2 separate regions of the Homo sapiens genome follow, and region 1 is linked to region 2. The links come from fine-mapping of genetic effects on gene expression. A gene starts in region 2. The other region holds a variant in brackets. All regions are shown on one strand. Distances are between the middles of the regions. Region 1 holds the start of LOC105372485 (a long non-coding RNA gene). Region 2 holds the start of ZNF446 (zinc finger protein 446).

Region 1 (5,229 bases), 26 kb after region 2:
CCCTCCGCACCTGGCACGCACACGCCATACACGTTAACCTGTTGCAAGAAGTCCACCTGCGACAACACGCCCTCCACCTCGTGCGTGGACACGTTCTCGCCCTTCCATCTGCAAGGAGGGAGCCGGCGCTTGTGACCACGCCCCCGGGAAGGAGAGGCCCCGCCTCTTGCCCCCGCCCCGCCCCTTTTGGGGATCAGGAGGCCCAGTCAGCCCCGCCCCCTCGAAAATCGAGAAGCCCCGCCTTCGCGTGAGAAGTCCTGACTCCAAGTTCCGCCCTCTTACGACAGGAAAGTCCCGCCTCTTCAGCCTGACTCCCTCTAGGATCTGAAAGCGTCCGTGGCCCCGCGCCAGCCCCGCCCCGAGAAACCCTGCCTCGGACCGGAAGGTGTCCCCGAGGCGGTCGCGGAAGTAGAGGAAGCCTTCGCGGTCCATGGCCAGTACGTCCCCGGTGTTGTAGTAAACGTCGCCCGATTGCCGCACGTTGCGCACCAGCTTCCGTTCCGACAGCTCTCGGGGGCCGCGGTAGCCCACGAAGGGTTGCTGGCTTACCACCTTGGTCAGCAGCAGCCCCGGCTCCCCTGGGGTAGGAGCAGGAACAAGAACCCCTGGAGCCCACCAGCCAAGCCCCCTGCTGGAGGTTTTCAACAACGGTGGACTCTTCATCACCCAGCACCCTGCCAAGGACAGACCCAAAGACACAGACAGGGAGATCCAGAGATGAGAGAGACATTCAGAGACCTTGAGAGACTGCGACAAGCGACACAGAAAATGAGAGAGAAGTATAGAGAAGGCGGTATGGGGAGCCCATGAGAAACAGGAAAAGGATAACAAGGGATGGAAGACGGACAGACAAATGGCAGTGAGAATAGATATGACCAGGACCTTGCAAGGCCCTGGGAGAAGACACTAACAGAAGGTACAGGACAAGGGACCAATGGCTGGAATGCCGTCTTCCACAGAAAGCTCAAGAGAACAAATCAGATGGACACCCAGAGACCCAGTAAATCAGAGCAAGAGATCAAGGCAGGGGAGCTGGACAGAGCCGAGAAGCTGAGGCGGAGGCCCCAGATGGTGGTAAGGCAGGCCACTGGCTCAGGGTCCAGATGAAGGCTGCAGACCCCTCTAGTGAGCACCAACGTCAAGCTTTTGAGCAGCTCGTTCCAGCCAAGCAGAAGACTGAGGGTCGCCACCCCTGCCACCCAGGAAAGGCTCCTCAACCCCCATACCTAGCCCTACAGGGATGCAGAAGCCCTGATTGTCCCTCACAGGCTCCGCCGCCTCCATGTCGAACTGCACCAGCTCAAAGGGGGACAGCATCTGGGGTGGAGGGTGGAGTGTTGACATAGGTCCTGTGGGCTCAGCCTCAGGGCAGCTGCACACCAGGTACCCGCACACTCACTCGGAGGAGGCAGCTCATCTTGCCCAGGGCCCCGCAGCGCCCCACATAGTTGACTAAGCCCATGTTGCCTTCTGTGGAGCCGTAGACTTCCCAGATCCGAATAGGACCGAAGCGCTGCTGGAAGGTCTCCCACACATCAGCCCGTAGTCCATTGCCCATTGCCAGGCGGACTGTATGTGTCCGGTCCTCTGGTTGCTACAGGAATGTCCCCAGAAGGGTGAGGAGGAGGTGCTCTTGGGGCATGCCTTGGAACCTTTACCTAGAGGGGGTGTTATCCTGGGTCCTTACCTTGGGAGTTACCTGGAAGGTGATGGGGGACCTCTACCTAAGGGATCTACCTGGGTTACTTACATGAGAGTAGTTACTGGAGTCTTAAATAGAGGGTTACCTGCAGGGGCGACCTCAGAGCTTTGCCTGGGGGACGTTACCAGAGGTGACTGGAGGCCTCATCTGGGGTCTCACCTAAGAGTAGTTACCTAGAACTTTAATTTAATGGAAATTTAATTTTAATTAATTAATTTTTAATGGAAATTCTCATGATAGGGGTAGGGGCTATTATCCCTGTTTTCCAAATGAGGACACTGAGGCTCAAGGTAGCACAGCTATCAAAGAAACCATTATTGGAAGCCTTGTCTGAAACTCATTATCTGGGGTTCTTGCATGAGGTGTATTATCTGAGGGACTTGAGTTCAGTACCTGAATCTTTACCTGAGACCTTTACCTGGGATTTCATACTTGGGTGTTCACCATGGAGCCCTAATCTTAGAGCCTCACCTGGGGAATGTTACACAAGTACCGCAGGAGCTCGCCCACATACAGGATCACTGTCACGCCATGCTGCCGACAGTCATCCCAGAAGCAGGAAGTAGAGAACTTGGGGGCCAGAACACAGGTGGCTCCTGGGAGATGACAGGAGAGGGGGTTTCAGGTCATGCTTCCAAATTGTTGTAAGAAGCTGCTTTTAGCACCTGTGCTCACCCACCCCCACACCCTGAAATACAGGACAATACTGAGTTCATCTTTGTGTCCTTGGCCCAGCCAGGACTGCTCTCACTAGAAGAGCATAGGCAGGCCTGGGTTCAAATCCTGTCTCCAGGATGCCGGGAAAGCTCCGTGCCTGTTATAAAGTGAGCAATGCTAAATAAGGGCTGTAAATATTAAATTTTTTATTTTTATTTTTGAGACGGAGTCT[C/T]GCTCTGTTGCCCAGGCTGGAGTGCAGTGGTGCAATCTCCGCTCACTGCAACCTCTCCCTCCCGGGTTCAAGCGATTCTCCTGCCTCAGCTTTCTGAGTTGCTGGGATTACAAGCACCCGCCACCACAGCTGGCTAATTTTTGTACTTTTTTAAGTACAGACGGGGTTTCACCATGTTGGCCAGGCTGGTCTTGAACTCCTGACCTTTCAGGTGATCCACCCGCCTCGGCCTCCAAAGTGCTGTGATTACAGGCATGAGCCTCTGTGCCCAGCCACATTTTTAATTTTTATTTTGGCTTGTCACTGACTCGAAGCTCAAATCACTCTTGATTACGATAAATGAATGCCCAGCTAAGCAGATGGGTGGGCAGGTGGATGGATATGGTGGATGGATGGAAAGATGAATGGATGGACAGTTAGAGTAGTGAGTGAGTAGATGGGTGGGTGGACAGAGTAGTGAGTGAGTAGATGGATGGGTGAACAGTTAGAGTAGTGAGTGAGTAGATGGATGGGTGGACAGTTAGAGTAGTGAGTGAGTAGATGGATGGGTGACAGAGTAGTGAGTGAGTAGATGGATGGGTGAACAGTTAGAGTAGTGAGTGAGAAGATGGATGGGTGAACAGTTAGAGTAGTGAGTGAGTGGATGGATGGGTGGACAGTTAGAGTAGTGAGTGAGTAGATGGATGGGTGGACAGAGTAGTGAGTGAGAAGATGGATGTGTGGACAGTTAGAGTAGTGAGTGAGAAGATGGATGGGTGAACAGAGTAGTGAGTGAGTAGATGGATGGGTGAACAGTTACAGTAGTGAGTGAGAAGATGGATGGGTGAACAGTTAGAGTAGTGAGTGAGTGGATGGATGGGTGGACAGTTAGAGTAGTGAGTGAGTAGATGGATGGGTGGACAGAGTAGTGAGTGAGAAGATGGATGTGTGGACAGAGTAGTGAGTGAGAAGATGGATGGGTGAACAGTTAGAGTAGTGAGTGAGTAGATGGATGGGTGGACAGTTAGAGTAGTGAGTGAGTAGATGGATGGGTGGACAGTTAGAGTAGTGAGTGAGTAGATGGATGGGTGGACAGTTAGAGTAGTGAGTGAGTAGATGGATGGCTGGACAGTTAGAGTAGTGAGTGAGTAGATGGATGGGTGGACAGTTAGAGTAGTGAGTGAGTAGATGGATGGCTGGACAGTGACATGCAGAGGCAGGGGGGTAGAAAGATGGATAGGTGGCTGGGTGAGGATCGTCACGCCTGTAATCCCAGGACTTAGGGAGGCCGAGGTGGGCGGATCACGAGGTCAGGAGATCAAGACCATCCTGGCTAACACGGTGAAACCCGTCTCTACTGAAAATACAAAAAATTAGCTGGGCGTGGTAGCGGGCGCCTGTAGTCCCAGCTACTCGGGAGGCTGAGGCAGGAGAATGGCGTGAACCTGGGAGGCGGAGCTTGCAGTGAGCCGAGATAGCGCCACTGCACTCCAGCCTGGGCGACAGAGTGAGACTCTGTCTTAAAAAAAAAAAAAAAGAAAAAGAGAAAGATGGATAGGTGTAAGGATGGATAGATGGGTGGGTGGATGAATGAATGAATGAGTGAGGAAGTAGGTGAGTAGGTAGATGGGTGGGTTGGTGAATGTTTGTATGGTTGTATTGACGTATGGACACATGGATTAATAAGATATAGGGGGCTGGGCGTGGTGGCTCACACCTGTTATCCCAACACTTTGGGAGGCTGAGGGGGGTGGATCACCTGAAAGATCAGGAGTTTGAGACCAGCCTAGCCAACATGGTGAAACCCTATCTCTACCAAAAAATGCAAAAATTAGCCAGGCGTGGTGGCGCACACCTGTAGTCCCAGCTACTCGGGAGGCTGAGGTGGAAGAATCGCTTGAACCCAGGAGGGGGAGGCTGTAGTGAGCCGAGCTTACACCACTGCACTCCAGCCTGGGTGACAGAGTGAGACCCTGTCTCAAAAGAAAAAGAAAAAAACTGAATCTAACAACACCTCTAGTTAAAGTTTCCAATTTAACAAGAAATGCAGATGAAAGGGGAACAGAGACCTACAAGCAAATACAATGGGGAGACTGTTTAATTGTTAAAAACAAACAAACAAACAAACAAACAAAAAAACAGCCAATTGGCTGGGCACAGTAGCTCACACCTGTAATCTCAGCACTTTGGGAGGCCAACGTGTTCAGATCACTTGAGGCCAGAAGTTCAAGACCAGACTGGCCAACAGGGCGAAACCCTGTCTTTACTAAAAATACAAAAAAATTAGCTGGGCATGGTGGTCCACACCTGTAATCACAACTGCTCAGGAGGATGAGGCATGAGAATCGTTTGAACCCAGGAGGCAGAGGTTGTAGTGAGCCAACATCACACAACTGTACTCCAGCCTGGGTGACAAAGCAAGACTCTGTCTCTAAAAACAAAACCAAACCAAAACAGCCCATTGGAGAAATCTGAACATAGACTGGACATCATATGATATTAAGGGGTTACATCATATGATATTAAGGACATCATATGATATTAATGTTGTTACGTGTAATAATCACTTTGGTTACAGTTTCTTCAGTGCTTATATGTTAGAGATATGTACTGCAATATTTACAAGCATAAAGATGCAGTGTCTAGGATTTGCTCTGAT
Region 2 (5,478 bases):
AGGCTGGACAGAGCTGAATAGGAAAGACTTGCTATTGCCTAAGGCTATGTGTGACACCCTCCTGAGGACCTCCCCACCCCAGTGTAATGGCCCTTCATGGCAGGGACAGAAAGGTGGACTGGGGGCCATTTGCTTCCTGTGGCCTTCAGCAGACCAGGCCCTGTCCCTACCTGGAGCCTCACCTCCAAGGAAATTCATGTTCTCCTTAATGGAAAAAAAAAAAAAAAGACTACCATCTGCAACTCAGAGTAGGTGTTGCAGTTTCCTGTACAGCAGTTTGGACCTCCAGAGCACAGCCTCTTGTCCCTACTCCAGAGCATGGTTCAGTCTTAATAGCAGTTCAAGAGCTTCTCTGATAAAGGTTTCTTTTTAAACATTTGTGTGAACGGTAGCAACCTGACACCTATTTCACCCTCATACAATGCAGATGGTATTGAACATACCCTGACATGCCATCAGCGTTTGTCATCATCACAGAAGTTCCTGGACTTGGCTTCAACCTGGGTACCCTCAAGAGGCCACAGAGTAGAGATACAGCCTGTCTGCAGCCCAGGGAGGGAGTGGGATACCTGTATCCTTTTCAGGGTCAGAGGTGGGTTGGGGTAGCCAGGAGCTGGATGAACTGGGATAGAGTGGGGCTGTCTGGAGCAGCAGCCCTGCTAGATGAGTCCTGGTGGATCCTGGCAATGGGAGGATGGTAGGTGGAGAAACCAAGGCAGGGCTGTGTTCCTTCTGCTGCTGAGATAGAGGGTGTGGCCATGTGTGATGACCCTGCAAGGTTGACTCCAACCAGTGGGCACTCCATCCCATGGCTTCCAAAATCCTGCAGCTATCCTGCCCTATACACAAAGAGCCCAGATCCAGGCCCCACACACTTGATATTGGGGCCAGACTCTTCCACCTGTGAAACCTCACAGGTTCCTGCAGGGAGTGGAGACACACAGAACCTAGCTCCCCTGGAGCCTGCAAGACTTGGGCCACCAGAATCCCAGTAGGTCCCTGAACCATTGTCCCCCAGTAAGTCTGCAGAGCTGTGAAATGCAGACAATAACCCTTCCCTGCCTGAAAGAGCACTTTTCTGGGGAGCCCATGGGAGTCAGGAGCAAAAGCATCTGTCAAACAAGTAGATACCCAGAGAGTCACGTGAAATCATTTCTATGCCTCTGACAGACGCTTCTTGAGCGAAGTTTCTGCCCTGAGCCCGCCTGACCCCTTAGGCTGGGCTCAGTACCCTACCTTGTCTTCCCACCAGCCGCCTCCCTCCATCAAGTTCCTTTCCACGTCTGCTTGTGCCCCTGTTGTCCCTCAGTTTGTCCACCCTCCTCCAATCTTCCCCTCCCCAAACCCATGACTGATCAGTGGCCCCCAACCTAGGCTCCCACCTCCATGCAGGTCTTGGCCCCTCGGCTGACCTCCCTCCAACCTCCCCCTCTGCTCTTAATTTTGAATAGGTAGTGACTGTAAAAGTATCCCTGGGCTTCTATGTCAAAAGGTCAGACTGAACACATGCATCTCACTGGGCTCAGAAATCCACTGAAACCACAGAGGGGAGTATTTAAAACACATAACCCACAAGTATGAGGATGGTGACAGAGGAGTCAGGAGCAATGGCATTCCTAAGCTAGAAGTGGGTGAGAGCTGTCACTAAGTTAGGGAAGGCAAAATACTACGTGGCGACTTGGCGAAGAGGAGAGAGTTCCCACCAGGCTGACTCCAGAACCGCAGAAGGCTGAGAACCAGCAGCCCAGAGACGGGAGACCTATATCAAAGCTGCCTGGGGAACAACTACTGAAGAAGCCCTTAACGCCCCAGTGCTCTCCCCACATGGTGGAGGGTGAAAGTTTTTGTTTTTTTTTCCTTCTGGGACTCTGCATAGTCCCAGAGAAAAGGCCTAAGCACCTCATCCCCAAAAACAACCTGAGGAGGCCGTTGGAAAGCTCCGAGTTGACAAGTCTCATCCACGCACATGCTCGGTGCTTCCAATCGGTGATCAAGACCACTGCTCTTCATCCAGAGCAGGCAGCAGGGATTCCCAGGTATCCAAAGAAACCAAAACAGGCGGTGTAATTTAGGACTGACTAAGTAATGGCTCGGCCACTTTTAAGTGTGGAAGCAAAACTGACCCCACAGATTTAGAAAACTGTAACACTGCTTATTGGGAGAAACTAGTGTCACCCTGGCTAGTTCTGCTCCCCAAATTCAAAGGTAAATAAACGGTTGAGCATGTCCGATCAGCCTGGAGGGAAACCTCCACCCCCGACTTTGTAGGACTGACATCTGAAGACGTCAGAGACTGCGGTCACAACCGTCGGTACCTCCTTAGGGCGCTTAACAGAGGTCAAAGATGGCCCTCGCACCCTCCTGGCGGGAGAAAGCCCAGGCTCAGGGTGGTCTTCTACACCACCGCCTCTCCCGGGTCCACTTGGAAGCGAGTCCCAGCGAACTACTCGACCTAGGAAACCACTGGGCCGCCACTTCCAGCCTCTTCGGAAGTCGAGGCAACGCTCCTGAACGTTGCCACGGGAACAGCTGGAGGCGGGCGGATATGCCCTAGCGTTATCTAGGGGCTGGCCCGGGGAATGGCGTGGGGGCGGCGGGGCCAAGCAAGCGCCACCTCTGATTGGGCAAAACCCCCTCCCCTCACCTGCCAATAGAAACCGGCCCACTGTACAGACGCGCAAGTTTATAACCCGGGAAGAGCTGCTCTCAGAGCGGAGGGAGACCATATAACCCTGGGACTCTGCCGTACCTCCTAGAGGAACAGAGCGCCTCTCAGGCGTCAGAGGCTGCTGCAAATGCGGGTCAGCGGGTCACGGTCGCGCCTGTCTTGCTGATGCTCATGGGAAATGTAGTTCAAAGGGCATGGGCGGTGCCTTCGGTGCAGGCGAGAGATTGGTCAGCGCGGCGTCGCCGGGGCAACACCCGGCTGAGGCGCCCCGCGTTGTGCGGCGCCACATCCGGGAAGCGGCCTCCAAGCAACCGCTCCGGGTTGAGGTGAGCGCAGGCTGCCAGAGTGGGCGCAGCCTTTCCACCCCGTGGGAGGGCTTGGGGTCGCCCTCTGGGGCCTGAACGGCTCCTGCTGTCGGCGCCCTGGAGGGCCCGCCCACTTCCCGACAGGCCGCGCGCGTCACCTCAGCCTTCGCTCAGGCCTTTCCTACCCTCAACGCCGTTCCGGGGGGCCGGGCCTGGCAAGTCCTCTTGGAACGCCTCCCTCTTGCCTTCCCCTTTTGGGGACAGATCCCGAAGTTCGAGCATCCCTCGGATAGGCCGGGTGTCAGGCCTGGTCTCTCAGGCCCGTCCAGGTGGGCGTCTTTCACTGCAGACCTTCAGGGCCGGGATGCTGTGGCCATCCCTCGACTCCGCGCAACGTGGAGCTTTGGCCCCGTTTTTCTTGGCCTTTGCTTTTCGTTTTCACATGCACGGGCCCCGGCAGTGTGAGTCGCCCACGGCTCGCTGTGGTCAGCGAGCACGATGTCCACGTGCCCCCTCCCCAGAGCCATTCCTAAAGGAGGTCCCACCCAGTCAACCTCCCCGAGATTGTGGAGGGCGACTCGTCCCCGTACATTACAGCCTGGCCCCACCTTCTACCCGCCCACCCTGGTCCACTCTCCTCGCACCTCGGCTAGACACTGTGGCTCCTCAGCCTGGCGCTGGAACTCTGTGATGACTGTCTTTCTCCACCTCTTTAGCGTCATCTCCCAGCAGTCCCCTGCTGGACCCAACTGTTTGCAATTTCCAGGAAGCTCCCTGGACACCTTGCGTCCAAGCATTTGTCCCTGAGGCTTCCTCCTGCTCTCATTTGCCATCATTGTTTGGGTCCTGTGACCCTCCTCCTTCCATGAAGCTTTCTTGGCCTTATCTCTTCTGGCCTCAGAGTACACTTGGTCCTGGTCTCAGCCCCCTGGGCTGAGCCTGGTGTCTGCCTTCCCCTGGCCAGATTCTCTTGGCTGACATTCCGACCCTTCCTTTTCTGTAGGCCCATCTTGACGATTCCAAGACCACCCCCTTGAGCAAGAATGCCATCCCCTCTGGGTCCCCCATGCCTGCCCGTCATGGACCCAGAGACCACCCTTGAGGAGCCTGAGACTGCCCGCCTCCGCTTCCGAGGGTTCTGCTACCAGGAGGTGGCAGGTCCCCGAGAAGCCCTGGCCCGGCTGCGTGAGCTGTGTTGCCAGTGGCTGCAGCCTGAGGCACACTCCAAGGAGCAGATGCTGGAGATGCTGGTGCTGGAGCAGTTCCTGGGCACACTGCCTCCCGAGATCCAGGCCTGGGTGCGCGGTCAGCGGCCAGGCAGTCCTGAGGAGGCCGCTGCCCTAGTCGAAGGACTGCAGCATGACCCTGGGCAACTGTTGGGCTGGGTGAGTGTGGCTGGCATCAGCTTCTTGGAGGGATAGACCCTGGCTAGAGCCATTGTGACCTACCTCTTCTCCTCAGATCACAGCCCATGTCCTGAAGCAGGAGGTGCTCCCTGCAGCCCAGAAGACAGAGGAACCACTTGGGAGCCCCCACCCCTCAGGGACAGTGGAGTCCCCTGGGGAAGGTCCCCAGGACACCAGAATAGAGGGGTCTGTCCAGCTCAGCTGCAGTGTGAAGGAGGAGCCCAATGTCGATGGACAGGAAGTGGGTGAGGTTGGGGTCCCACCAGAGATGAGGGACTCCTGGAGGAAGTGTGGACATTCCTGGCTAGGGTGGGAGTCCCAGGAGAGGTGTGTCAAGGCTGGGACTCCTGAAGTGAATGTGGATGTCCCTGTCTGGGATGGGGACCTGGGAGGCAGGAGCCAAGGGCTGGCTACGTGCCATGTCACACAGCAGAGGAGCTCCTCATCTGCCATGGCTCATGTGGGCAGCCCCTGACACCACCCTTCCATCTGCCCCACTTTTCAGCACCCTCCAGCCCTCCACTTGCAGCACAGTCCCCTGAGGGGAACCATGGACACCAAGAACCAGCCTCCACATCCTTCCACCCACCCAGGATTCAGGTGAGCAGCCCCAAGTGGGAAGTATAGGCCCCAGGTGTGAGAAGGGACTGTCCCCATGGCTGCCCTCTGCCTGGTGGTTTTCCAGGCTCCTTGACTAGTGGCTCTTTGCTTCCCAGAAGTGGAGTCTGTAAAAGCTGTACCCCTCCACAGGACCTGGGGCAGAGGGACAGACTGGTGATCTATTATTGAAAAGGATTTGGGGCTGGACATGGTGGCTTACACCTGTAATCCTAGCACTTTGGGAGGCTGAGGTGAGCGGATCACCTGAGGTCAGGAGCTCGAGACCAGCCTGACCAATGTGGTGAAACCCTGTATCTACTAAAGATACAAAAATTAGCCAGAAGTGGTGGCAGGCGCCTGTAATCCCAGCTACTAGGGAGGGTGAGGCAGGACAATTGCTTGAACCCAGGAGGCAGAGGATGCAGTGAGCCGAGATTGTGCCACTGCGCTCCAGCCTGGTCAACAAGAGCAAAATTGTGTGTCAAAAACAAAAAAAAAA

Evidence for each region. PIP is the estimated chance that this variant, and not a neighbour inherited with it, causes the effect.
Region 1: its variant is the best candidate, but not a certain one, in a credible set for the expression of ZNF446 in whole blood (TOPMed, PIP 0.51).

What each region holds. Positions count from the first base shown.
Region 1 is chr19:58,499,113-58,504,341 of GRCh38, forward strand. It overlaps SLC27A5 (solute carrier family 27 member 5), which reads right to left. Exons shown (of 10, transcript NM_012254.3): 4 at 2,174-2,298; 5 at 1,400-1,594; 6 at 1,227-1,317; 7 at 380-578; 8 at 11-108. LOC105372485 (a long non-coding RNA gene) reads left to right here and starts at 399. Exons shown (of 2, transcript XR_001754024.2): 1 at 399-1,616. RefSeq lists enhancers at 447-506, 567-776. The variant C/T (reference allele first, on the strand shown) is at 2,592.
Region 2 is chr19:58,473,203-58,478,680 of GRCh38, forward strand. ZNF446 (zinc finger protein 446) reads left to right here and starts at 3,150. Exons shown (of 7, transcript NM_017908.4): 1 at 3,150-3,302; 2 at 3,977-4,358; 3 at 4,435-4,624; 4 at 4,885-4,979. The coding sequence starts at 4,017. It overlaps ZNF324 (zinc finger protein 324), which reads left to right. Exons shown (of 4, transcript NM_014347.3): 4 at 1-2,234. RefSeq lists enhancers at 2,239-2,328, 2,389-2,448, 2,689-2,938, 2,760-3,054, 3,209-3,408.